Linked DNA regions of Homo sapiens. The protein of the gene in region 3 purifies or fractionates together with the protein of the main gene of each other region. This does not show direct contact. Each region holds a gene or a part of one and is shown on either strand. Other genes may lie near its edges.

Region 1 (3,495 bases), on a different chromosome or scaffold from region 3:
AAAAAAAAAAAAACATTAGCTGGGCACCTGTAATCTCAGCTACTTGTGAGGCTGAGGCAGGAAAATCACTTGAACCTGGGAGGTAGAGGTTTCAGTGAGCTGAGATGGTGCCACTGCACTCCAGCCTGGGCAACAGGGGCTCCAGTTCCCCAGGTCCAGTCCCTTGACAGCTTCAGGTCACACAAAGGAGTTACAAGGCAGAAACCTTCTTCAAACCCGACTCCAGTGTGACTGTCCCCAACATGCACAGGCCTGGCCCCTCTGGAGGGGTCTCTGGCAGGCACCCCTCACCCCGCCACACCTGTGTCCCTCAGGATGCTCAACAGCAGTGCCATCAGGAACCTCGGCGTAGACCTGCTCCCGGGCTACCAGGACCCTTACTCGGGCCGCACTCTGACCAAGGGCGAGGTGGGCTGCTTCCTCAGCCATTACTCCATCTGGGAAGAGGTGAGGGTGCCTGCTTCCTCCATCCACAGCCTTCGGGGAGAACGGGGCCAGTTTGTTCTATTCACTGCTCTGTGAACGAGTGAGTGAATGAAGACATTCATCAAAACCTGGCCAGCAGCTTTCAATCTCCTCTGTGTTCAACACCCCAGTGGGCACCACTAAGCGGTGCTTGTTTTCATTCTGCAGTCTCTCTTGAGCATCTACTATGTGCTAGGAGATATTCTGCTCTGAGAACACAGAGGAGGACAGGAACAATGCATGTCTGCTCCTTCCTGCAATAAAGGGATCCCCCTGGGGCTCAGGGACCAGAGCGGGATTATGGAAATCAAAACCAAGCTTGCAGTGGAGGGGAGAGGTATGGGCCACTTTGAGAGGTGCCTCGTGTGGGAGGGGGTCAGAATGGACCTCACCATTGAGGGGCCGGGAGAAGAGGCTTCTAGGCAGAAGAGAACAGTGGGTGCCAAGGCCCTGAGGCAGGAAGGTGTTTAGGAGCAGAAAGAAGGAAGCCTGGGGCTTAGCATGTGCTCAGTACTTGGCCAAGAAGCCTCGGCCCAGGGGCTGGGAGTGTGAGCGCAGGAAAGAGGTTGCTGGACACGGCAGGAGAGAATGGGAACTGGGCCCTCCAAGGGCAGCCCTTCCAGGAGATGGGACATGGATTCCTTGTTTGTGTTCTCTGCTATAGCCAAATATATGTGCACGTGTATGTGAGCATTATGGGTTTTTGTTTTGTTTTGTTTTCTGAGATGGAGTATTGCTCTGTCACCCAGACTGGAGTGCAGTGGCACAATCTTGGCTCATTGCAACCTCTGCCTCCTGGGTTGAAGCGGTTCTCCTGTCTCAGCCTCCCAAGTATCTGGGATTACAGGCATGTGCCACCACACCTGGCTAATTTTTCTATTTTTAGTAGACAGGGGGTTTCGCCATATTGGTCAGGCTGGTCTCGAACTTCCAACCTCAGGTGATCTGCCCACCTCGGCCTCCCAAAGTGCTGGAATTACAGGCTTGAGTCACCATGCCCAGCCTATGTTGGCTTTTTTACCGTCCCTGAACAAATTGGAGGATGACATGGTTCACTACTTTTTTTTTTTTTTTTTTTTTTGAGACAGGGTATTGCTCTGGCACCCAGGCGGGAGTGCAGTGGCGTGATCTTGGCTCACTGCAGCCTGGACCTCCCGGGCTCAAGCAATTATCCCACCTCAGCACCCCCGAGGAGCTGAAACTACAGGCGCGCACCACCACACCCAGCTAAATTTTGTATTTTTTGTAGAGACAGGGTTTCGCCATGTTGGCCAGGCTGATCTCAAACTCCTGAGCTCAAGTGATTCCACCCACCTCAGCCTCCAAAAGTGCTGGAATTACAGGCATGAGCCACCGCTCCTGGCTTCACTACTTTCTGAGCTGATTTCCTTTTCACAGAAGTTATCAAAAGTAGTTTTCCAAAAGTTATTCTAAAGTAACTTTTCCAAAAGTTATCAAAAGTACTTTTTCTTTTGGATATTCGGGGCTGGGGTCTTCCCACCCCCCACCCAGCCCAGCTTCCTTTAGAAAATAGCAGGAGGCCAGGCCAGGTGCGGTGGCTCACGCCTGTAATCCCAGCTGAGGCAGACAGATCACGAGGTCAGGAGTTCAAGACCAGCCTGGCCAACGTGGTGAAACCCCGTCTCTACTAAAAATACAAAAATTAGCCCGGCGTTGGCCGGGCGCCGTGGCTCACGCCTGTAATCCCAGCACTTTGGGAGGCCGAGGCGGGTGGATCACGAGGTCAGGAGATCGAGACCATCCTGGCTAACACGGTGAAACCCTGTCTCTACTAAAAATACAAAAAAATTAGCCAGGCGTGGTGGCGGCGCCTGTAGTCCCAGCTACTCGGGAGGCTGAGGCAGGAGAATGGCGTGAACCCAGGAGGCGGAGCATGCAGTGAGCCGAGATTGTGCCACTGCACTCCAGCCCGGGCGACAGAGCAAAACTCCGTCTCAAAAAAAAAAAAAAAAAAAAAAATTAGCCCGGTGTGGTGGTGGGCACCTGTAATCCCAGCTACTTGGGAGGCTGAGGCAGGAGAATCACTTGAACCCGGGAGGCAGAGGTTGCAGTGAGCCAAGACCATCTTTTGATGGGAACTGCAAGCCACTTCCCCGCCCCCAGAGAGTTGGGCTTCTGGGCCCAGCCACCATCTGTCATGCTTGCACTCAGGCAGCTGGAGGAGTGGGAGGGGAGATGGCTCCTGGTCTTGGCCATGGCTGCTTTGGCCTCCACCGTTCCTGCTCCTCTTCCATGCAGCCCCCTGACTTGGGGGGCCATTTCACTCCAGTCTGGGCAACAAGAGTGAAACTTCGTCTCAAAAAAAAAGGAAAATTGCAGGAGGCCAAAGTGACAAGCTGGGCCCTGGTGTTCAGCAGATGCGGGTTCATATCCCAGCTCTGCCACTTCCTGGCTGTGTGTCCTTGGACAGGCAGTTTCCCATCCCTGCATGTCCACCTCCTTCCTGCGATTGAGGATCATCATCTCCTGCCTCCTGAGGGCCCCTGCAGATACGCAGTGGCACAGCCCTGGGGCACAGTAGCACTCAGGGAATGTAGCAAGGGCCACGGTTACCATCATGATTCTATCTGGAGATCCTCAAATGCCAGAGCGAGGTTGGGATTTCCGGTCCCAGGCAGTGGGGCCCCCAGCAGGCTTTGGGGCAACTGCATGATGTGGCCAGGCCAACTGAGGCCAGGCAGAGGCTGTGAGCTTCAGCGTGGAGGGAGGGGGGTTGTTTAACTCCGAAGAGCCATCTCCCACCCCATTGTATGCCACAGGTGGTTGCCAGGGGCCTGGCCCGGGTCCTGGTGTTTGAGGATGACGTGCGCTTTGAGAGCAACTTCAGGGGGCGGCTGGAGCGGCTGATGGAGGATGTGGAGGCAGAGAAACTGTCTTGGGACCTGATGTAGGCAGCCTGCACCCTCAGGGACAAGGGGGCAGGGTGGGCCTCCGGAGTCTGCCTTTTCCTGCTTGGGACCCTGGCCGGCCCATCCCCTGAGAGCCTGGCCCTGTAGGAGCGGGTGTGGG
Region 2 (3,500 bases), on a different chromosome or scaffold from region 3:
CCATGGACTGAAATAATATACATGAGTCCATACTGATATAAATAATAAACAGATAAATAAATACATAAATGGGAAGAGACATCCCTTCCTCATAATAGAATTCCAATTACTAAATGAGGAAGGAATGAAGAAAATAGAAAATCATCATCAGGCAAACACCACAGTAATAAATATTGTTGACAAGTTCCATGGATAGATACTAAAATTAGTGGCAGAAAGTTTAAGGAGAAACAGGATATTAGCATAGCTTCAAAGTATCTCCCTCAAGCTACAAAGAGAAAGACAGTGACTGCAATGGTTAATCTTACATGTCAACTTGTCTAGGCCACAGTACCCATATATTTGTTTACTTTTGTTTGACACAGAGTCTCATTCCGTCACCCAAGCTGGAGTGCAGTGGCACCATCTCAGCTCGCTGCAACCTCCGCCTCCCAGGTTCAAGTGATTCTCCTGCCTCAGCCTCCCAAGTAGCTGCAATTACAGGTGCGTACCACCACGCCTGGCTAATTCTTTTTTTTTTTTTTTTTTTTTTTGAGCCGGAGTCTCGCTCTGTCGCCCAGGCTGGAGTGCAGTGGCGCGATCTCGGCTCACTGCAGGCTCCGCCTCCCGGGTTCACGCCATTCTCCTGCCTCAGCCTCCCGAGTAGCTGGGACTACAGGCACCCGCCACCGCGCCCGGCTAATTTTTTGTATTTTTAGTACAGACGGGGTTTCATCGTGTTAGCCAGAATGGTTTCGATCTCCTGACCTCGTGATCCGCCCGCCTCGGCCTCCCAACGTGCTGGGTAATTCTTGTATTTTTAGTAGAGACGGGGTTTCACCATGTTGGCCAGGCTGGTCCTGAACTCCTGACCTTAGGTGATCCACCCACCTCGGCCTCCCAAAGTGCTGGGATTATAGGTGCAAGCCACTGTGCCCAGCCTCAATACCCATATATTTGGTTAAACACTATTTTAGATTTTTCTCTGAAGGTATTTTTTGGATGAGATTAACAATTAAGTCAGTTGAATTTGAGTAAAGCAGACTGTCTTCCATATGGGCCTCATCCAATCAGCTGATGGCCTTAACATTAAAAGACTGACCTCCCCAGAAGAGGACATTTTTCCAGCAGACCATCTTTGTTTTCAAACCGCAACATTCATTCTTCCCTGGGTCCCCAGCCTGCCAGCCTATCCTGCAAATTTTGGACTTGCCACCTTCCACAACTGTATAAGCCAATTTCTTAAAATATATTTCTCTCTCTTTGTGTGTGGGTACATACACACATGTATATACACACATATATTCAATTGGTTCTGTTTCTCTGGAGAACCCTGACTACAGCATTTACAGTGGAGACATTTGGCGAACACCACCGTAACCGAGACATCAAGGTAAATATCACCAATAATAAGGCATATGATACAATAGGCACAGTGACTCACACCTGTAATCCAAGCACTTTGGGAGATCAAGGCAGGAGGATCACTTGAGCTTAGGAGTTTGAGATCAGCCTGGGCAACATAGGGAGACCTCGTCTGTAGAAAAAATTTTAAAAGTAGCTGGGAGTACACCACCACTCCCAGCTACTAATCTCACTCCAATCATGAGAAAACAATGGACAAACCCAAATTGAGGGGCATTCTACAAAATAACTATCAGTAGTCTTCATAAGTGTCAAGGTTATAAGTCAAGGAAACACTGAACAACTGTTTACAGACTAAAGGAGAGTAAAGAGAAACAACAATGGAAAGCAATGTAGAATCCTAGACAAGACCCTAGACAGAATGGGACAGCCCAAGGTTTCATAACATTTTCAGAATGGCACACAATTTAAAACTTATGAATTATTTCTGGAAATTTCCATTTAATATTTTCAGACAACAGGTGACCACAGGTAACTGAAACCATGGAAAGCCAAATCTCAGATGAGGAGGAATACTGTAATACAAAATCAAAGAGGCTAAACCTTATAGAAATAAATAACTATAATTACATGAGCAATTAAACTTTTCAGAGAAACTTGTATTTTATAATATACAAACCATAAACCAGAATACAGATTTTCACATTAAATTTCAACTAGAGTATCTACATAAAAATGTAGTTATTATAAGTTAAAAGAGTATTGATAGTATTTTTCAATCCTACCTGGTTCTGTCATCTGAGATTTTTGTATAAGAACATCTCTTATTTTCTCCACCCACAGGTAAAGAATACTTTCACCGATATTCTGACTAAACAAAATTCAGGGGAAAAAAAAAATTGTTATTTCAAAAATCATCTTCTCAAATTCAAGAAGATACAGACATTTGCAATCCAAGACATTATAAACAATCTAACCATTTCTTTTTTAAAATAATTTATAAAAACCTGGGGTTTATCAACATTTGTGTCTGAGTAGTTAATACAGGTTATAGCAACGTTAAAAATTCCAGTTGACTCCAAAATTAACATGGCTTACTTTAAAATAAGCAGAAGAGCTGTAACCAAAGAGGGGAATAAACATTTCCAAACTAGATGGATTAAAGAAATATAAATGTGACTTAGTTTCTGTAAGTGGATACAATCTTTCAGTATCGATGTCTGATCACTGCTTGCTTTTTTAAAGTTTTTTAAGAATTTCAAACCCCTTATTTGGTACACTTATCATTTAGTATACTTATCTCAACAAGAAAGAATGTAAAGCATATGGGAAACTCCTTCAGGGAGTCAATTTACAAGACCTAAAAGACAATTCAACAATTTTATATTCATATCTTGTTTCTGACAAAACATTCTATTGCCTAAATTGATTCATTTTGGTTCCAAATGATGTTTGGTTGCCTCAGGTAACTAAATCCATCTCAAAGGATCACTGAGAAAAAGAATGTGTCACAGGTTTTAAAGTCATGTCCATAGTTATGTTAAATGATGGTAGCAGCAATAAAATAAAGGCCCAAGTGTCTGCTCTTTAGAAAAAGACACTAATTGTAGTAAGTATGGTATGTGTTTAAAGATATCACCACACTACTATATAGCAACACCTCACCTCCTTCCTCTAAAAGTTTCCCTTGAAACCATTATCTCTCTTTATCACTACTCATCAGCACCCACCAAAACTTTCGAAACAAGAGACAGAAGAAAACAACATTGTTTTTAAATAATTCTATACCCTCAAATCCTCCCCATCACACCCACAATTCCTAGTACTAAAACTAAATACTTGTATTGGTTGATATAACAGTAAAGCTATTCACTAAAATGCACTAAGCTGTGTGAAGTTAAACTAATCACTTGATCTGAGTTTCTGTCACCTAATTTTCAATATTATAAGCTGGATGAGAAGATTTTTGAAATAAGAACATCCCAGAGCCGGGCGTGGTGTAATCAAAACACTTTGGTGGGCCGGGGTGGGCAGATCACTTGAGCTCAAGAGTTCGAGACCAGCCTGGGCAACTTGGCAAAACCCCATCTCTACAAAAAAAATACAAAAATTAGCCAGATGTGGTGGTGCGTGCCTGTAATACCAGCTACTCAGGA
Region 3 (3,500 bases):
CTTGTCAGTGGAGGATGTTACTATCTGCCTGACTCATTTTATTGAGTCAATGTGAGGTTCCAGCCATATGTGAAAGTCTTCCTTTACCATATATGTGCACAATACTAAACTGAAGAGGTTCCCTCAACCCCTGAAGAATGAGTACTTTCCCACTGGGAGTTAGACACATGGACGAGAGAACATGTGTGCATCCATGGGGCTGGAGAGTCAGTCTCATCCCTCGGCCAGCCAGGCTTTGGGACCCTGCCATGTGTTCTCCAGGTCTCCTGGACTGGCCACAGTGATGGGTGCTCATGGTATGCCTGGGGATGTGATACCTCTAGAGATATAGATCTGGAATCACTGGGATGCAGAAGGCAAGTGAAGCCATGGATGTAGATGAGCTACTCTCAGATGAGAGGATAGAGTAAGAAAAGAAGGGAGCCTTGGACTGATCTTTGGGGAATTGCATCATTGAGAGAAGCAGGTAGAAGATCAGGAGACAGCAACAAAACCTGAGAGAGAATGGCCAGAAAAATGGGAATACTAAGTATGGTATTTTTGAAGCCAGCAGAAGAGAACAATCACGTGCTAAAAGAAAGGAAGAAGGATCATGAAGAGGGGAGAAGAGGAGAGATACATTGCAATTAACTGATATTTTAAAACTCCAATACACACAATTTTATCAAAAATACAACCAATACATTGACTAAAAAAATTAACAGGAAACACACCAAAATGCTAATAGTAACAGTTTTAGATGACTGAAATTGTTTTTTCTTTTTTCCATATAGTCTGTGATGTACTTATGTCATTTTTACCATTGAATTACTGTATTTAGTAATAGAAGATATATGGGTATGAATACCTCAAATTGGTGTAAGAGAAAAGGCTATCTGCATAGACCTGAGAGAGAGAAAAATACACACACACACACACACACACACACACACACACACAAAATAATCAGTTGTTGAGCTTAACCATAGAATCTCATGGTAGGATTTGGCCTGATTTACTTTTCTATCCAAAAATATTTTCTTATTGTTGTTTTAAGTGAGAATGGTCACCAGGTGAATTTCAACAGGTCTAGAAGCTTTAATTGTCCATCTCATGATACCTGTAATGCCTAGGAGTCCAGATCTCAGGGACTAGAATCAAGGACTCCTCAAACAATCCCTGTGGTAGAACGCATTGCTTACAGCTCACCAATGCTCAGGGCCCCATCCTGTGGAAGGAATGTGCTTCCTCGCATCCCCAACATCAGCCTTAACCATGTGACTTCTTTGGCTACCAAAACATGAGCACAAGTGATGTGTGCCACTTCTGGGATGGAAGTTTTAAGAACCAACACACATTCGCCATGCTTTCGCTTCTGTCACTGTGATCCGCACAGGTCCAGGTGTTTACTGCTCTAAGAGTCTAGGTCCCAAAGCATGGACAATGACATGGAGGGAAGCCTCAGCCAACCTGGAATGATCATGTGTGTGAGCAAGAAATACATTCTTATTGCTTAAAACAACCGAGATCTGGGGGACAACTGCTTGTTACTGCAGCCTGTTCTGACAGATAGAGTCTTCTGGAATTCCAAAAGAAATACATATATATCTGTGTGTGTATATATGTATGTATATGTATATGTATATGTATGTATGTATGTATGTATGTCAGCAATACCATCCCTTTCTCAAGAAACCTAATTTTTAAGTCTTCTTTCCTTCTCTAGATGATGCATATTTACTACAGGGGCTTAATATAGAGGAACTATATCCAGAGACCTCTAGTTTCATCACTTACGATGGGTCGATGACTATCCCACCCTGCTATGAGACAGCAAGTTGGATCATAATGAACAAACCTGTCTATATAACCAGGATGCAGGTGAGTTTCTCTCTGGTCATTTAGCTAATGGAGAAGAATGATGTTAAAAAAAAATCACTGAAATGTGGAGTGCCTATTATAATAGTTTACTAGGACCACTATAACAAAGTCCCACAAACTGGGTAGTTTAAACTAACACAAACTTATCGCCTCACAGTTCTGGAGACTAGAAGTCCAAGATCAAGGTGTCAGCAGCGTTGCTTCCTTCAGCGGAATGTGAGGAAGAATCTGTTCCATGCCTCTCCCCTAGCTTCTAGTGGTTTGCTGACAATCTTTGACGTGCTTTGGCATTTAAAAGCACCACCCCAAGCTCTACCTCCATCTTTTTTTTTTTCTTTTTTGAGATGGAGTCTCGCTCTTGTCACCCAGGCTGGAGTGCAGTGGCGTGATCTTGGCTCACTGCAACTTCCACCTCCTGGGTTCAAGCGATTCTTGTGCCTCAGCCTCCTGAGTAGCTGGGATTACAGACACGTGCCACCACGCCCGGCTAATTTTTATACTTTTAGTAGAGATGGGGTTTCATCATGTTGGCCAGGCTGGTCTTGAACTCCTGACCTCAGGTAATCCATTTGCCTCGACCTCCCAAAGTGCTGGGATTACAGGCGTGAGCCACCACACCCAGCCTCTACCTCCATCTTTATAAGGTGTTCTCCCTGTGTCTGAGGCTCTGTGTCCAAATTTCCCCTTTTTATAAAGGCACCTTCTGTATTCCATTAAAGCCTAACCCCAATAAGCTTGTCTTAGCTCATTCCATCTGCAATGACTATTTCCAAATAAGGTCACATTCTGAGCAACTAGGGGTTACCAGTACCTTCAGCTTATGAATTTCAGGGGTACACGATTCAACCCATATGCCTGGGTTTAAAGAGCCAGCATCCAAAAGGCTTAGCCTGAGCTAATTATAGAAGCATCTCAACTGTCTCAGTGGGAAAAGATAGCCATTAATTCCCAGAGTGTATTCTACAACTACAGTGTTCAGAAAGCAAGCAAGCAAAATGGAAGATGTCATTATGCATTTGAAAAAGTTGGGTTTTAAAAAGTTAAATAGATTCCATTGTTGAAGGATTTCTGGGGTCCTTCTTAAATGCTAATATATGTGTCAGTCTTCAAGAGGAAGTGGTATGATATGTAGTATTTTGCACACATATTTGAATGTGCAGTGTTTTTTTTGGATCATCTCACAGAGTTAGTACTCATCAGAACTGGATGGGAGGCAGATGGGTCCTCCTGTGTGAGCTTGGCTACACGGCTTATTGTGCTCTTCAGGCCTGTCACCCACCTCTATGAAATGAACACTCCTCTTCTTTATTGAGAGGGGGATAAATTACATGAGTTTGCTCCAGCTCTGACATTCTACGACTGTGGGAGTCTATAACAAATTAAAGGAGAGATGAGCAAAGGAAGCAGAAGCCAATATCCTTGACGGGATATGTGTTCCCACCTGACCACCATTTGAACAATTTGAAGTTCCTTAACCTATCTGTATTGAATGGGACCCACTGGGTGACAGGCAACAGTAACTCCCCACTTAAGCTTAGAAAAAGCATTTATTTGAGAGCTACGAGGGCATCTTAGAGAATTTAAAATCAGAAATTGACATCAGAAATTCACTGAAATGGGAACCCCAGAAGTGCTTTCTC
Region 4 (3,500 bases), on a different chromosome or scaffold from region 3:
TACACGATGGGTGTCCTCATTGTGAAATTAGCGACACAGGCCTTGCTGGTGCCTGGTAGGGAGCAAGACGCTGGCATCCCGATTCTTTACAGTCACGGGGCCCCGCAGCCCTGATATGGGAAGAGGCTTCTCCCGAGGCTCTTTGGGCAGGGCTGGGCCGCCTGCACGTGTGTCCCTGTCATTTTGAGCCTGGACAGCCTCTCCGTCTCCAACAGGACCCTGGCCCGATACAGCTGGAAGAAATCAGAGCTGACAGATGAGGACCCGACAGTGGGCCCCGGCTGCTGCAGCTTTGGTGCTGAAATGTGCGGCTAGGCTCCTGGTCTCACCCTGGGGCAGCCAGGAGCCGGAAACCTCAGCGCCTCCTGGCACGGAGGCTGCAGTTTACATACCCCACTGGGACTGCCTCTGGCTTCGACCCTCAGGGTCTTTCGAGTGGAGTTTGAATGGTTTATTGGTTTCTTCGGGTACCCGCCAGCTTTCCTTAACACCCTTGACGCTTGAGCTTTCTCCCCATTCCTCCTGGAAGCTACTGTTTCCCACCACATCTCATTCATCCCAGGCCAGCTTCAGGGCTAAGGGTGGGTGGCCCTGAAACCCTGCCAGCCCATCCCTCGAGGACACCTGGCTTCTGCAGCCTGTTGAGGAGCCTTCCTTCCCCTTCAGGGTCCTACCCCTCATGGAGGTCAGGCCACTGCCAGTCTACCCCACCTCAAACACCAGGGTCAGCTGGGCTCTGCTGTTTGGTTTTTATTTCGCTGGAGAGGCCCGGCCAGGCGATGAGGGCCAGGTCCTGCCAAGCCTCATTTGTCGCTTTGACCCAGGTCCTGCAACAGCCCCTGTGGCTGCTATCTTCCCCTTGGACCGGTCCCCCAGGGACTCAGGGCAACGTGTGGAGGTGTGTTTGGTGTGGAGGTGTGTTTGGTGTGGAGGTGTGGGGGGTGTGGAGGTGTGTGGGGTGTGGAGGTGTGTGGGGTGTGGAGGTGTGTGGGGTGTGGAGGTGTGTGGGGTGTGGAGGTGTGTGGGGTGTGGAGGTGTGTGGGGTGTGGAGGTGTGTGGGGTGTGGAGGTGTGTGGGGTGTGGAGGTGTGTGGGGTGTGGAGGTGTGTGGGGTGTGGAGGTGTGTTTGGTGTGGAGCTGTGGGGTGTGGAGGTGTGGGGGGTGTGGAGGTGTGTGGGGTGTGGAGGTGTGTGGGGTGTGGAGGTGTGTGGGGTGTGGAGGTGTGTGGGGTGTGGAGGTGTGTGGGGTGTGGAGGTGTGTGGGGTGTGGAGGTGTGTGGGGTGTGGAGGTGTGTGGGGTGTGGAGGTGTGTGGGGTGTGGAGGTGTGTGGGGTGTGGAGGTGTGTTTGGTTGTCGTGAGCTGTGGGTATTTAGCACCACACAGAGCCCAGGATGGCCCCAGTGTCCACAGGGCCAAGGAGGAGAAACCCTGCCTGGGATGATCAGCAGATGTTTCGGAGGCCCCCACAGGCCCAGCCCTGTGTTGACATCCAGAGGGTAGTGTGGCAGCAAGAACCGCCCCTGGCTTCAGAGCCAGGCCTGGGTTCGAATCTTGGCGCTGCCACCTCTGAGCCGACAGTTCCTCATTTGTGACAGAGCTCACACACCAGCCTAGCAGGGGTGTTTTAAGGATCAGAGTTAAATATATAATCACATGACCGGCTTGGTTCCCGGCAGGTGATTAGTACTAAGTAAACTGTGGCTACCGTTGGCGAGACCGAAGGGAAAACATATCTGTGGCTGACATGGGTTGAGCGCCCGCCCAGCCAGTGCTTTATGTCATTATCCTCCCGACGTAGAGACTGAGGGTCAGAGAGGCATTTGGTGTTTGCCGGTAAGGCACTGGCAGAGGCTGTTTACAAGTAAAGCACAATTGTCAGTTCCTGCCCTGGGGATGCTTTCAGGCTGAAGACAGGGAAAGAGAACCTAAAATAGAAGGGGGGGCCTAGTCAGAGGCGCTTTTGCTGCGTTGGCGATGCTGGGGAAAGTTTGATGAGGAGGAGGGAGGGGGCAGGGCTTTGCTGGGAGGGGGCACCGTAGGGGCAGGGCACTCCACCAGCCCCAGCCAAGGCTGGCGCTTCCTGGCGAGTGGGTGTCTTTCACGGCCCCCACATCGGGGCCTGGCCTCCATGGAGTCCCCTGCCTCGCAGCTGTGTCCTCTGAGTGTGTGTGTGCTTGCTCCTCCTCAGAACATGGTGATGAGTTTTCGAGTCTCCGACCTTCAGATGCTCCTGGGTTTCGTGGGCCGGAGTAAGAGTGGACTGAAGCACGAGCTCGTCACCAGGGCCCTCCAGCTGGTGCAGTTTGACTGTAGCCCTGAGCTGTTCAAGAAGATCAAGGAGCTGTACGAGACCCGCTACGCCAAGAAGAACTCGGAGCCTGCCCCACAGCCGCACCGGCCCCTGGACCCCCTGACCATGCACTCCACCTACGACCGGGCCGGCGCTGTGCCCAGGACTCCGCTGGCAGGCCCCAATATTGACTACCCCGTGCTCTACGGAAAGTACTTAAACGGACTGGGACGGTTGCCCGCCAAGACCCTCAAGCCAGAAGTCCGCCTGGTGAAGCTGCCGTTCTTTAATATGCTGGATGAGCTGCTGAAGCCCACCGAATTAGGTGAGTGGTCACCCTGGGGAGGCTGCGACTGGAGGCTTCACCTAGGCCCCGTCGCCCAGCCCAGCCCAGCCACACAGCCGACTTCGAGTGATGTTCTCTGTGGCGCAGCCAGGGCGGGGAGCCACAGTGGCCAGGGGTGTCCTTCCTCGGAAGCAAAGGGACCATCTTTGATATTGGTCACCCCTTGCTGTGTTACAAGTTACCCCGAAATGGAGCCACTGGAAGCAGGGGGCGTCTGTTAGCTCTCAGGAACCTGTGAGCTGTGTTGCGGGGCATTGGGGCTTGGGGGCTCTCATGAGGCTCAGTCAGGCTGGAGCCACCTCATCTGGAGGCTCGACCAGGGCTGGAGCAGGCACATCCTTGTGTGGTGGCTGGCAGGCCTCAGCTCCTCGCCAGCTCTTGGCCACAGTCCCCAGGTCCTCATGGTGCGGACTCCTGCACGGATTGCCTGGGCGTCCTCAGCCTGGTGGCTCCCTCACCCTAGGGTAGCGAGTGTGCACCTCCAAGCTGGGAGCTGGAGCCCTTTTTATAACCCAACCTCGGACACGCCTCGCCATCTCCCCCACAGAGTCCGTTGCTCACACAGACTCTGTGGCGCATGCAGGGACCACACCAGGCTGTGACTGCCAGGGCCAGGGGTGACCAGGGCCACCTGGGAGCCTGGTTTCCCTGCTTATTCCCCTTGGAAAGGGGGCTGGCCAGTGGCATCCTTCCCCCGGGCTCTGGTTCCTCGCTGGCAGCCTGCAGGAGTGTCCTTGGTCAGTGGGCTCAGGTCACTGCCAGGCTGTGTGCACCGGGCGTGCTGGGGGTTCAGGGCGATCCCAGGCGGAGGAGAGGTGCTGGGCTCCACGCTTCTCTCTCTCGTGTCTTTGTCTGCAAGCACTGA
Region 5 (3,500 bases), on a different chromosome or scaffold from region 3:
ACGCAGCCCTCAGGCAGTGTCAAATCATCTGGCTGCTCCTGAAGCTCATCCTCAAGTGATGCCAGGTGGGTGAGGTTGGGCAGGCAGTATGGGTGCATGGCCCGCACCAGCTCACTCAGGGAGGAGATGCTCTCATCACCAGCTGCTGGCACTGCCATCTCTGCTGCTGTTGCTTTATCTTCCTCCTCAGGGCAGGCCAAATGCATGGGGAAGTCCGGGATACTGCTCACACAGTTGTCAAGCTCCCCGGCAAGAATCTGGCCACTGAAGCTGGCCACCTCCTCCTCTTCTTCTCCATCACTGCGCTGCTGGGGAGGTGGGGATTGGCCCCAGCGTGGTCTTGATCTTGGGGGTCTCCAGCTAGGAAGCTTGGGGGAAGAGGTCTCTAAGAAAGAGGGTGGGGAGAAGTCCCAAGAGGGATCTGGAAGAGACATTTCAACCTGCAGGAGAGAAGAGAGGTCTCAGGAGGAGTTTTCTTTGGGAAAGTATTTTCCAGACCTGTCCCCACACACTCCTCCTCCCACCTGGGAGTTTCTGAAACCCTCTAGGTCAGGCTTACCCCACTCCCTCTACTGCTGCCTGTACTGGGCCCCAGTGGGTCAACTGGGGTGATGAGGTCACGTTCTGGGGGTGTCCGAGAGAGAGTAAGCAGCTTGTGCAGCTAAGAGGGAAAGAAAGACCTGAGATCAGTCTATGCTTCAGAGCTATATGAGTAGGTCCACAGGCATGGGTCTAAACTTTGTACTAATCCCCTTCCCCTGGTCCCACACTCACAGAGGAGCCCTCCCGGGGTGACACAAGCAGCTCCGAATCAGGAATGCTGTCAAATGGAGAAAGGTTCTCAGAATCTGCATTGTCCAAGATCTCCGTCAGAGCCGTGAGCAGCGACACTTCATTCTGGTCCTCCAGAGATAACCTGCTCTGCTCCAGAAAAACAACCAGAAGGTCCTACCAACATCCCTAATGACCTACTATGCCACTAAGGACTGGATATCGAGAGAATCAGTCTCCCAGGTTCAACTCAGCTAATGGGGCAGCGAGAAGGATCTGAATACCAGAAGGCATGGATTCCAATCTCAGCTACCATCCACCAGCTCTTGGTGTCAACAGAGACCTGTCAGACTTGACTCAAGCTTGGGTTTCACACATTCCCCTACCCTCAGATAAGATGTGGGATGCTCAGCAGACAACCATCGGCTAGGCTAGAAATGAGCTGAAAAACAGAGATCAGAATCCTCTGGACATGTAGTTCAGGGGCCCAGACAGTGGGAAAGGCCTTGGACTATAGTCTAAGCTAGGAAAGGAATTCTTACATGGGACATAATCTGGCAGCCTGCAGCCTAATTCCCACTTAGAGACAAAAAATACACTTCAAGGATTCAGGTTGGGCACCCAGGAAGAAGCTAAGGTCCTGGGAGAGCAGAGCCATGCCAAGAATTTGAGCTAGAACCTCCCATGTAAACCTCCTGCTTGAAGATTTCAGAGTCCAGCCCCAGCTCACCTCTCCAAGGCTCCCAAAATCCTCAATGAGGGAGATAAGGGAGGCATCCATGTAGCTCTGCATGGTCCCCAGCAGTGTCTCATCCTGCAGCATTAGCTCCTCCATTTCCAGGTCCTTGTCCCTCAGAGATGGGCCCAGCCGAGAGAGACTGACAAAGCCAGAATCACCCGCCTCCTCATGCAGCAGCACCTGGAGCAGAGAAGAAGGTGAGAAGGGTATGAGCTCTCTGGCAGCAGCTGATAATATGCTCCATAAATCAGGTACCCTCCACTGCTGGGGCCAAACTCAGCAGCAGCAACACTGTCGCCAAACTTCTGGGCTAGCAGAGCAGAGAGAAGCACAACCTATGAGCAAAAACCCCAATAAGGATGGCAGTTTTCAGGGACCTTCTGGGGCAGAAAAATGTTTGGGCTCCAACCAGAAACAGCTAGAGTCACAGATTAAAACCCGGGAGTAAAAACATCAGGAAAATCAAGATTGTTCAGAATCATCTACTGGCAGCAGTGAAGATAACAGTCTGAGGGGCACACCAAAGCAAAAGAGGTCAGCAAGGAGACAGCTTCAGCTCCAACAACCTCACCTACCTCAAATCCCATTTAGTTCTCTGCTTAGTGCAAATCCTACCTTCTTCAAGAAGACACCCCAGCTTCCCCAGCCCACGGTGATCTCTCCTCACAACTCTAAAATCACAGACTTTTCTGCAGCATTAACTTTTCTGGTAATCACACCCCACCCCCTACCCCCATCCCCATGACACTCATGGGTTCGGTCTCCTGGGTTCAAGCGATTCTCCTGCCTCAGCCTCCGGAGCAGCTGGGATTATAGGCGCCCACCACCACGCCCAGCTAATTTTTGTATTTTTAGTAGAGACAGGGTTTCACCTTATTGGCCAGGCTGGTCTCAAACTCCAAATCTCAAGTAATCCGCCCGACTCAGCCTCTGAAAGTGCTGTGATTACAGGCGTGAGCCGCCACGCCCGGCCGACACTTATTTTGAAGGCCCAACAGTGAGACACTCAACCTCTCAATGGTAATTCCAAGGGAAGGGCCTCTTCTCCACTCCTACCAGATGAGAGCAAGTGAAGAGAAAGCTTGATTCCCTAGATGGAAAGGCCCCGCCCCACACTCCTCTAAGAACTAGCAGCATTTACGGCCTCTCGTGTCAGGCATCAAGCAGCCCGCCCAGACCTGTCAAGAGTGTGGGTGTGGGCAGGGCCGGAAGGGACCAGAATGGTAGTGGTGAGGCCAGAGCCAGGGGGATCTCCACTACAGTAGTCCCCCCTTATCCTAGAGGGATACATTCCAAGATCCCCAGTAGATGCCTGAAACCACAGATACTACCAATACATTGGTATGTATTGATACAAACAATACATACCAACGATGAAGTTTAACTTATAAATTAAGCACAATAAGAAATTAATAATAAAATAGATTAAAACAATATACTATAATAAAAGTTATGCGAATGTGGGCTCTCTGGCTCTCAGAATATCTCACTGTACTGTACTCATGTATTTTTAGACCCCAGTTGACAGCAGGTTAACAGAAACTGTGGATAAGGGGAAACTACCGCATAGGAAACATGAAGTAAAAAGGCCTGAGAACAGGATCACATACAGACAGGCCAGACCTTCCCTTTCCTCTTCTGCAACAAAGTGAAATTCCGCACCACTTCCAAAAGAAAAAAGCAACAGGTGTCTTCCACACCCCCACCCCCCACACCCCGGCAATATATACCCTCCTAACAGAGCTGAGTACCAACGCCCAGGAAAAGGAAAGGCTGGTTAAGGACGCGTTAGGAGGCCAGGCCCAGAGAATAAGCAAAAAGTGGTAGGTTTTAGGCACTAACTCCTCCCAGGCCTTCACAATCCTATAATTACAAACCAGCAGCTGAATAGCACCTGGCTCTGCAAACACTCCAGGGTGAGCCAAGAGGCTGCAACTCCATTTGCTCTGCCACCACCTACCTACCAGAGCCCCAGCGACTAAGCTGGAAT
Region 6 (3,500 bases), on a different chromosome or scaffold from region 3:
GAAAACTAGACATTATGCTGCCACAGTCCAATGATGAGCATATGGGGGTGTTTGGCAACTCTGAATCCAAATATTCATAATTGTCACCTAAATATATTTAAGTAAGGAGGTCTGGCACATTTTCTGTTTTAAACCATGCATGTAAGTATAATATATAAAATTTATTCCGTCTCTCATTTCATGGTATTAAGTGAATTTTTTTTCAGCAGAATAAAGTTAGGAAGAATAGAAATAATTTGAGTGCTTACTATGCACCAGGTACTTTTTTTTTTTTTTTTTTTTTTTTTTTGAGACAGTCTCCCTCTGTCGCCCAGGCTGGAGTGCAGTGGCGCAATCTCACTCACTGCAACGTCTGCCTCCTGGGTTCAAGCGATTCTCCTGCCTCGGCCTCCCAAGTAGCTGGGATTACAGGCATGTGCCATGATGCCTGGCTACTTTTTGTATGTTTAGTAGAGATGGGATTTCACCATGTTGGCGAGGCTCGTCTCCAACTCCTGACCTCAAGTGATCCACCCACCTCGGCCTCCCAAAGTGCTGGGATTATATGCATGAGCCACTGCGCCTGGCCTTACTCCAGGTACTTCTATGTGTGTTTTAGCTTAATGTTCCCAACAAGTCTACGAAGTAGGTGGGTATTGACCTTGTTACAGAGGAATTAAACAATTGAGACTAAAGCAGGTTAAGTAGCTTGCCCAAGCCCACATATTCAGGAGCTGAGGTTCTAGTGTGTGTGTGTGGTTTTTTTTTTTCTTTTGAGACAGAGTCTCACTGTCGCCCAGGCTGGAATGCAATCGTGCTATCTTGGCTCACTGCAGCCTCCACTTCCTGTGTTTAAGTGATTCTCCCACCTCAGCCTCCCAAGTAGCTGAGATTACAGGCATCTGCCATCATGCCTGGCTCATTTTTGTATTTTTGTAGAGACAGAGTTTCACCATATTGGCCAGGCTGGTTTGAACTCTTGACCTCAGTTGATCTGCCTGCCTCAGCCTCTCAAAGTTCTGGGATTACAGGCGCAAGCCACCACGTCTAGCTTCAGGAGCTAAGATTTGGACCAAGGTCTTCTGTTACTCAAGAGGCCAGGCTGGTCCAGCCAAGGCCTGCTGCTCCGAGTAATAGCTTAGTCAAGAAGGAGCTTGCAAAATCTTTTCCTGTGGACAAAAAAAAATTTTTTTAATTTGAACATGGCAATACATAAGAATGGTTGGAAAACATTTTTTATGTTTTTTGACTTAGTAATTTCATTTCTAGGAATTTATTTTAAGGGAATAATCATGGAGACACATAAAGCTGTGCATGCAGGTGAGGTTTATAATAGGAAAAGGTTAGGGACAGCCTCTGTGCCCACCTGGGAGGCTGGTCAGTAGGTGATGCTGTATCTGTACAATGAAATGCTATTCAGGCCGAGCGCGGTGGCTCACACCTATAATCCCAGCACTTTGGGAGTCTGAGGCAGATGGATCGCTTGAGCCCAGTAGTTGGAGACTAGCTTGGACAACATGGCGAAACCCCGTCTCTACAAAAACACAAAAATTAGCCGGGCATGGTGGCACACACCTGTGGTCCCAGCTACTTGGGAGGCTGAGGTGGGAGGATTGCTTGAGCTCAGGAGGTCAAGGCTGCGGTAAACCAACGCTGCACCACTGCACTGCAGCCTGGGCGAGAGAGGAGACCCTGTCTCAAAAAAAAAAAAAAAAAAAAAACAACTATTCAGATAGTTTAAATTACATGATAGAAGAATATTGCTAGGAATATATATGTATTATGCACATACATAGCAGGACTCCACTTTTATTGTATTTGTTTATATATTTTTGAGACAGGGTCGCACTCGCCCAGGCTGGAGTATAGTGGCACAGTCACAGCTCACTGCAGCCTCAACCTCCTGGGCTCAAGTGATCCTCCCATCTCAGCCTCCCAAGTAGCTGGGACTACAGGGATGCACCACCACACCTGGCTAATTTTTGTGTTTTTTGTATTGACAGGGTTTTGCCATGTTGTCCAGGCTGGTCTCCAACTCCTGGGCTCAAGCAATCTGTGTGCCTTGGCCTCCCAAAGTGCTGGGATTACAGGTGTGAGCCACCAAGCCCTGCCAGGACTCCATTTTTCTAAGAAAACGCATCATTTTTGTGTATATTTACCAAAGGAGGACTGGGTGTTTATACTAAAATGGTATAATTTGAATCAGATTACAAGAAATGCTTCCTTTCCCTTCCTTTTTGTTTTTTTTTTTTTTTTTTGAGACGGAGTCTCGCTCTGTTGCCCAGGCTGGAGTGCAGGGGTGCGATCTCGGCTCACTGCAAGCTCCGCTTCCCGGGTTCACGCCTGGCCCTTTCCCTTCCTTAAACAAATCCATGGTTGTTATTTTTATTTTTGTAATTTAAAACCCTGATTTTTGAAGAGAAGTAAACTGAAAGGGCCAAGCGTGGTGGCTCACGCCTGTAATCCCAGCACTTTTGGAGGCCGAGTCAGGCGGATCACGAGGTCAGGAGTTCCAGGCCAGCCTGGCCAACATGGTGAAACTCCGGCTCTCCTGAAAATGCAAAAATTAGCCAGTTTTAATGGGGCGCGCCTGTAATCCCAGCTACTCGGGAGGCTGAGGCAGGAGAACAGCTTGAACCCGGGAGGTGGAGGTTGCAATGAACCGAGATCGCGCCACTGTACTCCAGCCTGGGGACAAAGCAAGACTCTGTCTCGAAAGAAAAAAAAAAAGTAAACTGGAGCCAGCAGATTGCCTAAGTGTAAGACAAGCACGTGCCTGGGGGCTTGAGGTGCGCGGGACCTCTGGCTCCTCACATGAGTTTCACCGAGCACTGTGGCTTCAGGTGCGGCCGCGGGCACTGCCGAGCTGCTGCCATCCCCGAGTGGATCCCTCAACTGGACCATGGGCCTGCCCACCGACAATGGCCACGACAGCGACCAGGTGTTTGAGTTCAACGGCACCCAGGCAGTGAGGATCCCGGATGGCGTCGTGTCGGTCAGCCCCAAAGAGCCGTTCACCATCTCGGTGTGGATGAGACATGGGCCATTCGGCAGGAAGAAGGAGACAATTCTTTGCAGTTCTGATAAAACAGGTAGGGTAATAGCTCTGCAAGCGATGCCAGGCCCCAGTGTCCAGTAGGGTGGGTGCCAGCGGCAGGCTCCCTCTCCTTTCCCAGGGTCCCCTGCCAGCCTGGTGCTCGTAGGCCATGTGCCATGCTGTGTGCCTGGGGCACTTGGTTCCCTAGAGCCACGGCCTGGGCATTTGGGTATTAGCTGTTGTTGCTCAGTGGGGTCCACGGTGATCACAGGCTCCGCCTCTCAGGAAAGCCCAAGTGTATTTGTTTCTAAGCCCTGCCTTGGCTTAGCCGAAGAGTTCATTTATGCAGATGAAATTGTGTCTTCAAAATCCATTCAAGAAACAGCTTTAATTTCTCCTTTGGATCTTTAGTTGGCAATTTACCCATAGAAACTGCCTTTGCAGATATGAATCGGCACCACTACTCCCTCTATGTCCACGGGTG
Region 7 (3,500 bases), on a different chromosome or scaffold from region 3:
AACTCCTCACAACACATCCTTTTTTCTTCTCTGCCTGCTTCATCTCCTACAGGCTGCCCGGCAGCTCTGACAGACTCAGAGGACGAGTCCCCAGAAGACATGAGGCTCCCACCCTATGGCCTTTGTGAGCGTGGAGACCCAGGCTCCTCTCCTGCTGGGCCTCGAGAGGCTTCTCCCCTTGTTGTCATCAGCCAGCCGGCTCCCATTTCTCCTCACCTCTCTGGGCCAGCTGAGGACAGTAGCTCTGACTCGGTGAGCAGTGGAGGAGCCTGTGCAGAAGCAGTAAGGAGGGGCAGGGCCAAACCCAAGTGTCCCAGCCTGGAGTGCAGCACGATCTTGGCTCACTGCAGCCTCTGCCTCCTGGGCTGAAGCGATCCTCCCACCTCAGTCTCCCAAGAGTAGCTGGGACCACAGGCAGGCACCCCCGGCTAATTAGAGAAGGAATCTTAGCTATCCAGGGCTCTCTTTTTCCCAGGGGAGAGGAGGCAGGCCCAGCCTCTCTTCAGTGCCACACCAGTAGATATCATCCCAAAACCCAGACCAGCCCAATAGCCTCACTGCTTCTCCCCCACAGTCATTCTCTTATTATTCACCAGCCCCTCAAAACGCCTCTCCTGCCTCACTCTTCCTAAGCCCCTCAGGTCACTGTCCTAGCCTTGGCTGCTCTTCCCATACCTGTCCCAATGTGCTGCTCCCCCATCTTGGGACACCACCCCAAAGCCCAACCCTGTCTCTTTGGCATCCAGGAGGCTGAAGATGAGAAGTCAGTCCTGATGGCAGCTGTGCAGAGTGGGGGTGAGGAGGCCAACTTACTGCTTCCTGAACTGGGCAGTGCCTTCTATGACATGGCCAGGTGAGTTCAACCAGCAAGGCCAGGAGGGAGGTGGGAGGAGGTCAGAGGGAAAGGGCATCTGTGTGGACAGTCACCAGGCCCTGCTCCCAACCCCTGCCCTTCTTGGCCTCAGCCAAGAAAAGGAGATACAGGTATGGTTAACAAGGAAAATGACTCACTGCTCCAAATCCCAGATGCCTTCAGGTAATCCCTACCCCTATCTTATCAATGCACTCAGAGGTCCTGCCTTTAACTGGCTTCTATGTTGTTCTAGCACCATCTTCTGCAGAGCCCAAATTGCCCTGCTTCCCCTCTCTCCTGCCTCTACCCCTTCCCCAACCACCAGGTAGGTACCTAGGGTCCTCCGGGGAGGAAGGGAGGTGACCATGGCCCCCAGGGATAGGAGCAGAGAGAAGACTGGGATCCAGCATCCATCTGGCTACAACTGAAATGCTTTCCCTCTTCCCTGACTTCCCTGGGTAACCCTTAGGGAAGGGAACCTATAGAGGTGGGGGTTTCAGGTATCAGATTGTCCCCTTCTGCCTTCCCTTTTATTCCCAGGTTCAAGGGGGCAGGCACAGGGAAGAGAGATTTGATCATCTAGTCCCGGTTTTGCCTGGATGTGAGATGGGCTCAGGGCAGGGAGGGGGTGATGCTGTCATCCTTCTCGGCTGGAGCAGGAAGATGAAGGACGATGTCAGACTCATTTTCAGCCTCATTAGGCAGCAGACGGAGATGGAGGGAGGAGAGCAGGAGGCTGGGGGATGGGCTCTGCACTGCAGAGACCAGCAGGGACTAAAGAAGAGAGGACATGGGGAACTGGAAAAATAAGCCTTCCAGGATTGTGGGGAGAAAGACGCTGTGGGAGAGGCCAGGATGCTGCATTAGGCACAGGATAACCTGGGAACCCAGGCACATGGGTCCTGCTCTCCGAAGTCTGCAAGTCAAGAAGGGAACAGAGCACGCCGACCCTCTCCCTTTCCCCTCTGTCTCTCTTAGTGGCTTTACAGTGGGTACCCTGTCAGAAACCAGCACTGGGGGCCCTGCCACCCCCACATGGAAGGAGTGTCCTATCTGTAAGGAGCGCTTTCCTGCTGAGAGTGACAAGGATGCCCTGGAGGACCACATGGATGGACACTTCTTTTTCAGCACCCAGGACCCCTTCACCTTTGAGTGATCTTACTCCCTCGTACATGCACAAATACACACTCATGCACACACACACTCACACACATGCATACACTTAGGTTTCATGCCCATTTTCTATCACACTGGGCTCCATGATATTCTGTTCCCTAAGAACTGCTTCTGTGTGCCCTGTTTTCATCCCAAGATTTCTCACTTCATCCTCTCCTACCTGGCTCTTTTGTCCCAGGGAGGGGTCCTGTTCGGAAGCAGTGGCTGAATTTATCCCCTGAAAGTGGTTTTGGAGGAACCGGGATGGAGGAGGCCTTCCCCTGTGGGAATAGAATCGTCCACTCCTAGCCCTGGTTGCTTCTGATACACAGCCACTGCACACACACACTCACACTCACACTCCCTTGTCTGATGCCCCAAAGCCAATTCCTGGGGCACCCTACCCTCTCTTATTTGGAGTTTCCGTTGGTTTACCTGAGTTTTCTCTGGGGTCTGCACAGAGGCAGCAGCATGGACATCATGGCCTCTCAGGTCCCTTTTGGTTCTCAGTTTCATTGGTTCCTCTTTCTGTTCCCCCATTGACTTCTGTGCCCCACCCTAGCCTTTTCCATAACCTTAGGTATTCAGTTTGGAGGGGTTTTTTGTATTTTTGAGGATTCCTGTATTCTGTATCCTCTCCTCGCATCTCCTCACATGGAAAGAAATAATGTATTTGTGCCTTCTGTGAGGAATGGGGGGAACAAGTGGTCCCAGGTATCCCCATTTCCAAGGCCCCCCTCCCTCTCCAGGTCCCCCCACAGCAATAAAAGCTTCCCCCTGATATCCATCCCTTTGTAGTTTGAACAAATATATTTATATGATATGTATGACTGTTGTCACAAAATGTGTTCTTATCATGAGGTGTGACTGGAACACAGGGCCCAGACCTCCAGCTCTTAGACCCTGGTGGAGGGAGGAGGGAAAGAGGGGACGCATCCCTGCCTCATGGCAGGGGATGCTGGGCAGTTACTGTCCTGTCGTGCCTCCTGGTGTGCTGGCCATGAGTGGGTTGTCTCAAGTGGGAGTCTGGCTTGGATAATGCGGCAGTTGGGGAGGGAGCAAACTCATGGGTCCCTGTCACTTCTGCTCAGGGTTTAGTCCCAGGGTGGGTGCATGCCATGGAAAAGTGGGACAAGTTTCCCACTGCCGAGAACTTCACCCTTCATAGCAGCCATCACTGTACCTTATGCCAAAGGACAGGCTTTATTCCTGTCAAGAGCGTACACCTTTGAGTATCTACTTAGTAAAAAATGCCCTAAGCCTCATACCTCTAAAGGCGATTTTATATTCCTCCTGTTTCTGTTTCTGTTTCTTTCTCTGTTGCCATCCCCTCATACCTGTATGCACACTCTGCCTCAACAGTCACAAAAACACATTCATCCACTCTAACCAGCTTCACAGGCTAGACAGACACATACACAGCATCGTAAAGCATTTGTTAAGGACCTGCACGCTCACCAAGGCTCTCAGCAATGGCCTGCACAAGCACATG

The links.
Region 1: the proteins of CA10 (region 3) and CERCAM purify together in Homo sapiens (co-immunoprecipitation; 2 studies listed by BioGRID and IntAct, with this or other methods). This does not show direct contact.
Region 2: the proteins of CA10 (region 3) and IMPACT purify together in Homo sapiens (affinity purification with mass spectrometry; 3 studies listed by BioGRID and IntAct, with this or other methods). This does not show direct contact.
Region 4: the proteins of CA10 (region 3) and PIAS4 purify together in Homo sapiens (affinity purification with mass spectrometry; 3 studies listed by BioGRID and IntAct, with this or other methods). This does not show direct contact.
Region 5: the proteins of CA10 (region 3) and PPRC1 purify together in Homo sapiens (affinity purification with mass spectrometry; 3 studies listed by BioGRID and IntAct, with this or other methods). This does not show direct contact.
Region 6: the proteins of CA10 (region 3) and CLSTN1 purify together in Homo sapiens (co-immunoprecipitation; 2 studies listed by BioGRID and IntAct, with this or other methods). This does not show direct contact.
Region 7: the proteins of CA10 (region 3) and CALCOCO1 purify together in Homo sapiens (affinity purification with mass spectrometry; 4 studies listed by BioGRID and IntAct, with this or other methods). This does not show direct contact.

The regions. Positions count from the first base shown.
Region 1 is NC_000009.12:128,430,857-128,434,351, forward strand, and holds part of CERCAM (inactive glycosyltransferase 25 family member 3 isoform a precursor), read left to right. Parts: intron 1-314; coding exon 315-447; intron 448-3,245; coding exon 3,246-3,373; intron 3,374-3,495. UniProt on the Homo sapiens protein: Probable cell adhesion protein involved in leukocyte transmigration across the blood-brain barrier. Does not express any beta-galactosyltransferase activity in vitro.
Region 2 is NC_000018.10:24,436,670-24,440,169, reverse strand, and holds part of IMPACT (protein IMPACT), read right to left. Parts: intron 2,216-3,500; coding exon 2,130-2,215; intron 1-2,129. UniProt on the Homo sapiens protein: Translational regulator that ensures constant high levels of translation upon a variety of stress conditions, such as amino acid starvation, UV-C irradiation, proteasome inhibitor treatment and glucose deprivation.
Region 3 is NC_000017.11:51,634,215-51,637,714, reverse strand, and holds part of CA10 (carbonic anhydrase-related protein 10 precursor), read left to right. Parts: intron 1-1,705; coding exon 1,706-1,860; intron 1,861-3,500. UniProt on the Homo sapiens protein: Does not have a catalytic activity.
Region 4 is NC_000019.10:4,010,736-4,014,235, forward strand, and holds part of PIAS4 (E3 SUMO-protein ligase PIAS4), read left to right. Parts: intron 1-2,187; coding exon 2,188-2,614; intron 2,615-3,500.
Region 5 is NC_000010.11:102,136,040-102,139,539, reverse strand, and holds part of PPRC1 (peroxisome proliferator-activated receptor gamma coactivator-related protein 1), read right to left. Parts: intron 1,691-3,500; coding exon 1,502-1,690; intron 922-1,501; coding exon 775-921; intron 662-774; coding exon 560-661; intron 441-559; coding exon 1-440. UniProt on the Homo sapiens protein: Acts as a coactivator during transcriptional activation of nuclear genes related to mitochondrial biogenesis and cell growth. Involved in the transcription coactivation of CREB and NRF1 target genes.
Region 6 is NC_000001.11:9,743,966-9,747,465, reverse strand, and holds part of CLSTN1 (calsyntenin-1 isoform 1 precursor), read left to right. Parts: intron 1-2,822; coding exon 2,823-3,071; intron 3,072-3,460; coding exon 3,461-3,500. UniProt on the Homo sapiens protein: Postsynaptic adhesion molecule that binds to presynaptic neurexins to mediate both excitatory and inhibitory synapse formation.
Region 7 is NC_000012.12:53,710,453-53,713,952, reverse strand, and holds part of CALCOCO1 (calcium-binding and coiled-coil domain-containing protein 1), read left to right. Parts: intron 1-52; coding exon 53-252; intron 253-746; coding exon 747-853; intron 854-1,106; coding exon of another isoform or gene 1,107-1,178; intron 1,179-1,831; coding exon 1,832-2,009; 3' UTR 2,010-3,500. UniProt on the Homo sapiens protein: Functions as a coactivator for aryl hydrocarbon and nuclear receptors (NR). Recruited to promoters through its contact with the N-terminal basic helix-loop-helix-Per-Arnt-Sim (PAS) domain of transcription factors or coactivators, such as NCOA2.